Linked DNA regions of Homo sapiens: region 1 is linked to region 2. A link means that fine-mapping ties the variant in region 2 to the expression of a gene that starts in the linked region. Tissue or cell type: whole blood. Region 2 holds a variant in brackets; the other region holds the start of a gene. All regions are shown on one strand. Distances are from middle to middle. Region 1 holds the start of GCM1 (glial cells missing transcription factor 1). Region 2 has its middle 59 kb from the start of GCM1.

Evidence for each region. PIP is the estimated chance that this variant, and not a neighbour inherited with it, causes the effect.
Region 1: GCM1 starts here. The variant in region 2 is the best candidate, but not a certain one, in a credible set for the expression of GCM1 in whole blood (INTERVAL, PIP 0.53).

The regions. Positions count from the first base shown.
Region 1 is chr6:53,147,429-53,150,344 of GRCh38, reverse strand. GCM1 (glial cells missing transcription factor 1) reads left to right here and starts at 1,504. Exons shown (of 6, transcript NM_003643.4): 1 at 1,504-1,591. It also overlaps the pseudogene LOC124901513.
Region 2 is chr6:53,206,564-53,209,479 of GRCh38, reverse strand. No RefSeq gene overlaps it. Among named protein-coding and RNA genes, the nearest start is that of GCM1, 59 kb to the right of the region's middle. RefSeq lists an enhancer at 1,646-1,815. The variant A/G (reference allele first, on the strand shown) is at 1,113.

The DNA.
Region 1 (2,916 bases), 59 kb after region 2:
CACTCCAGCCTGGGCAACAAGAGCAAAACTCCGTTTCAAAAAAAAAAAAAGATGAAGCAGGGTCTTAAACTTCAGGCAGGAAAGGAATTTGTTCATGAACTGAAAGACGAATGAGAAATCTATTAGGGGCCGCCGAATGCAACTATGAGGCTTTCCAAGCCTTTTGCCTTCTCGCCTTCTCATCTCTGCCTCCTAAGCCTCATCCTTGAAAGTCTGGACCTTCCTGACAGGTACTGATCCCTCGTCATGTTGTCCAGGATATTGTCACTCCCCGAAACACCCTCTTCCAGTCCTTCACGCCTTGATAAATATCTATTTGTCCTTCAAAAGGCTCATCGAGCATTATTTTGGTGGGTTTCCTTTGGTTCTCCTCCCTCCAGCTTAATAGCCTTCTCATTTATATTACTTTTATTCTATACATCAAATTAAATCGGCCTTATTTAGTAGCTTTAATCATCTTTTCTACTAGAATGAACTTCTTAATGGCTTTCATTCTCTCTTGTGTTGCCAAGGCCTGGCAGACTACCTAGAACAAAACATATGAACTGAACTGATTTAGGCTGTACTGCGGATGTCTCTAAAAGGAAGAATAGCACTGAGGGTATCTCTAGAAGAAATAATTGGTTTTTGTTTGTTCGTTTTTTTTTGTTGTTTTGTTTTGTTTTGTTTTTGTTTTTTTGAGATGGAGCCTCGCTCTGTCACCCAGGCTTGACTGCAGTGACGCAATCTCAGCTCACGCAACCTCCGCTTCCCGGGTTCAAGCAATTCTCTGCCTCAGTCTCCCAAATAGCTGGGATTACAGGCGCTCGCCACCACACCTGGCTAATTTTTGTATTTCTAGTAGAGACGGGGTTTCACCATCTTGGCCAGGCTGGTTTTGAACTCCCAACCTTGTGATCCGCCCACATCGGCCTCCCAAAGTGCTAGGATTACAGGTGTGAGCCACCACGCCCGGCCAAGAATTGTATATTTTTAGGGGATCAGAACACTTAGAATTAGTGGGACATTATTGCTAGGGTTAAGATAGCATTTCAGTATTTCTGGTATAGAGGATGTTGGCTATCCACTGTCTATTCCAGTAAATTTCCTCACCATAATATCTCTCTATCTCTGTCTGTCTGTCTTCTCTCTCTTGCACACATGAGAGAGAACTATTACCTGCCGGGTAAATAGTGGGAGAATTAGGACCTACTGTGAATCGTCTGCCTGGGGCCCAACCTGTAACATCACAAGAAGAAAAACATCTGTACTTCCTTATGAGGTTCTTTTCAATGTCCATTTTAGTTCAAATGTCCTCATAACATAAAGGGAGGGGGAAGTTCAGAGACACATCATAGAATATTCATCACATTGCTGGCATTCTGGGAAGAATCAGGCTGGTTAAGTGACTCCCAGGCTGCTCTTACCTATCCAGAGCCTAGAGCATCTAGATTTTGATTGGACCATTGCCAGAACTCATTAGCATAGTGTACCCTGACCTGGAATAGGGAACAGCGTCTGCTCAGAAAATGACCAGAGCCTGCTGGGACTTGAACCAGCAGTAAGATTTTCACGACACAGTGCTGTCTGCTTCTCCGTAAGAAGTTAGAAGGTAAGAAAGCCAGAAATCCCGTGGAGAGGCAAATGTAAGGGATGTGGCAACGACCACTCTATTCCTACAGGGTTTCATTTGTTCTAGTTCATTTTTCTGTAGAAATGATGAAAATTGAATATACTTTGCGCAAGTTGCTTTAAAAAAAGGAGTCTTGACAAGTGTAGTTTTTCAATCCTAGAAGAGGAAAACAGAGTTTACTTAAGGGCTGTAAAATGGTTTTTTCTTCTTTTCTATGTTTTGTTCTTAACTTTTAGGGAAATATTAAATTAATGCTCATTCGCTTAGCAAATGTTAATATCGAGAGAAAAATCTAAAATGTAACATAGTTGTTCTGTAATAAAATTTTCTTTATTATTCTTCCCTTAATTTAAAAACAAAATAATTATGTCTATATTGCCTAGGCTTTATAACAATGTTTTTGATTTTTGAAAATATGAATCTTATTTGCCAAGGTTTTTAAAAAGTAGATCTATTCCAATTAGTTATAACAAAATTTGCACCATCAGAGACAATATCGTTACTGTTCAGGGTAAGTACACGGAACTGCTGCTTGGTATCTGCATCTTCTATACCTGTTATTTAAGTCCTTTGAATTAGAGTCAATTTGCGGCATCATTTCTTCAGTAACACAATGTTTCTTTCCTAAACATAGAATTTTACTTAAAATCCATGAGGATTTAGTCTTGAAAATCAACATTCAGTTGGGGAACAGAAACTTCGTGCTCTGCAACCACTAGGTTGTAGCTCAGTATGGGTATGTGGAACAGACAGGAAGAGACTCTGATTAGCTTGTCATTTAATGGTCAAGAACTTTATTTATAAAGACTATACTTTCAGGGATCATTTCTATAGTTTGTTACTAGAGAAATTTCTCTGGACATCTAGAGCACACACAAAAAAGAAAAAAGGAACTTCATTCTTATGTTCAGGTCAACGGTCTTTTATATACATACACTTTCCCTTGGTAGAGTTCAGTGATTGACAAGTATTAGGATTATATAACACTAAATAACTAAAGAACAGGCCGGGCACAGTGGCTCATGCCTGTAATCCCAGCACTTTGGGAGACAGAGACGTATGGATCACCTGAGGAAAGGAGTTCAAGACCGGCCTGGTCAACATGGTGAAACCCCATCTCTACTGAAAATACAAAAATTAGCTGGGTGTGGTGGTGCGTGCCTGTAATCCCAGCTACTTGGGAGGCTGAGGTAAAAGAATCACTGGAGCCCCAGAGGTGGAGGCTATGGTGAGCTGAGATTGCGCCACTGCACTCCAGCCTGGGTGATAAGAGTAAGACTCCATTAAAAAAAAAAAAAAAAAAA
Region 2 (2,916 bases):
AAAGGGCCAGGCATGGTGGCTCACACCTATAATCCCAGCACGTTGGGAGGCCGAGGTGGGTGGATCACAAGGTCAGGAGATCGAGACCATCCTGACTAACATGGTGAAACCCCGACTCTACTAAAAATACAAAAAAAAATTAGCCAGGAGTTGGGGCAGGCACCTGTAGTCCCAGCTACTTGGGAGGCTGTGGCAGGAGAATGGCGTGAACCCAGGAGGCAGAGCTTGCAGTGAGCCAAGATCGCACCACTGCACTCCAGCCTGGGTGACAGAGCGAGACTCTGTCTCAAAAAAAAAAAAAAAAAAGAAAAGAGGCCAGGCGCGGTGGCTCACTCCTATTATCCCAGCACTTTGGGAGGCTGAGGGAGGTGGATCACCTGAGGTCAGGAGTTTTAGACCAGCCTGACCAGCAAGGTGAAATCCCATCTCTACTAAAAATACAAAAATTAGCCAGGTATGGTGGCAGGTACCTGTAGTCCCAGCTACTAGGGAGGCTGAGACAGGAGAATTGCTTGAACCTGGGAGGCAGAGGTTGCAGTGAGACAAGATCGCGGCACTTCAGTCCAGCCTGGGCAATAGAATGAGACTCCCTCTCAAAAAAAAAAAAAAAAAGAAAGAAAGAAAGAAAGAAAGAAAAGAAAACATTTAAGAACTTATAAATGCCCTTTCTCATCTCATCCAGCGTTGGGACGAGGCCTGCAGAGGATGTGTTCTGGGTATTTGGTGGCCCTGCTGGTGAGCACTGGTGTTCCTTGAGGTCAACCTGTGCTGAGGACAGGAATATTTCACCCAAGTACATAACTAAGAGAAGATCACTCCCAGAAGATTTCATCCCCAAAAGCAAGAAGGTGAAGGACACTTGTACCCAGACAGTGAGATCCACTGCCTCCTTGCCATGCTTTTAGCTCCCCCCACAGCTGAGCCCTCCTGACCAGAAAACCTGACGGGGCCACCTTCTTCATCCCTCAGTCTCACAGAGGTCCCATAAAACTGAACCAGGCTTGGTGCTGACAGTGGGCCAGGGCAATGTAGGCTCACTGGAGCTGGGTGAGAGTGTGACAGGGAGCGTCAAAGTCAAAATAAAAATATAAAGACAAATCTCTAAATGTAAT[A/G]TTTCTCCTTAGGAATCACAGAATTGCAATTTGGTGCACACACACAGATGGGGTGGTCTTCAGTGTGTCCGAAGGACAAAGAGAAGGTTAGGAGTTTTATTAGAAAGGGAAATATTACATATGGTTTTGAAAGAAAGCTCGTTGGCACTGGAGAAGATTTTGGGAGCTGGCAAGCTCCGATTGGTGAGTGACAGTAGTCGGTAAAGCTAGTCGTAGAGTCACAGCAGGGCATTTCAGCAGCTACTGGGTAAAACTGATCTTACCTATAGCAGGCCATTGCAGCAGCTGGGCTTGTGGAGAATTCAGTTATTGGATCAGTGCTATGTGCCCTGATGCTTTTCCAACCTGTCCTTTCTACTTTGATTTAGTTGGGTATCACAAGAATGACCCAATTTGCATAATAAACATTCAAAAGAAAAAGTAGCCAGCGCTGGTGCTGGTTCAAGAGGATGCTGTGTAGGCTGAGGCTGGGGACAGGCACACCATATTATGTCTAAGCAAAATGGCCAGGTCTAGTGCTTCGGCTGCAATGAGGAGGGTGCCGTGGGAAGGGACGCATCAGTGGAGGTCTCAGAGATGGTCCCCGGAAAAGTGGAACTGCAAGAGAAGTTGATACAGGTGTCAGCAGGAGACAGTCATATAGTGGTCCTCACAGAAGATGGCCATGTCTTCCTCTGAGGCTGCTTCCAGAACAATTACAGTGTGATCAGGCTGTTAGATCCCATGAAGAAGAGCATGATGATTGTGCAAGTGCAGCTGGACATGCCCACGGTGAAGTTGGCCTCAGGAAATGGCCACTTGGTGATGCTGACAGCTGACAGTGACCTAGATACCTTGTGCTGTGGGAGCAAGGCCATCTGGGCCTTGTGCTTGAATTATGTGCCAACCGTGATGGCCGACAGGGCATGATTCCTGGTCCCCCAGATATGATGCTGAAATTCAGGGGAAGCTGGGACCTGATGCCCTTCTGTAGCACCTGCCTCACCATTCCATCCCCTATAAAGGGCACATACACAGAATATGGCTTTGGCCTCTTCAACAACCATCAGCTTGGAACCCCAGGCACAGAATCTTGCTTCATACCCCAGAACCTGGGATCCTTCAAGAACTCTACCAAGTCCAGGCCAGGCGCAGTGGCTCACGCCTGTAATCTCAGCACTTTGGGAGGCTGAGGCGGGCGGATCACAAGGTCAGGAGATTGAGACCATCCTGGCTAACAAGGTGAAACCCCGTCTCTACTAAAAATACAAAAAAAATTACCTGGGCGTGGTGGTGGGCACCTGTAGTCCCAGCTACTTGGGAGGCTGAGGCAGGAGAATGGCGTTAACCAGGGAGACGGAGCTTGCAGTGACCCGAGACCATGCCACTGCACTCCAGCTTGGGTGACAGAGCAAGATTGCGTCTAAAAAAAAAAAAAAAAGAAAAAAAAAAGAACTCTACCAAGTCCAGGTAGGCTTCTCTGGTGGCCAGCACCATACAGTCTTCGGGGATTCAGAAGGAAAAGCATGCAGCCTGGGCCAGGCTGAATATAGACGGTGGGCCTTCATGGGTGCTAAGGAGAAGAACATGCCCACCCTCATCTCCAGGCTGGTGCCATCTTCTCAGTCTCCTCAGTGGCTTTGGGCCTCTGTAGGGTAAACTGTGATCAGTGATGGACGTGTTTTTGCCTGGGACATGGACAGCAACTACCAGCCGGGCTTAGAGCGGGATGAGGATGCCTGGAGCTTGGTGGAGATGACAGGCAAAGAGCTGGAGAACCATGTGGTCCTCTATTAGTCAAGGGCAAGGAGTGGAGCTGATGAAG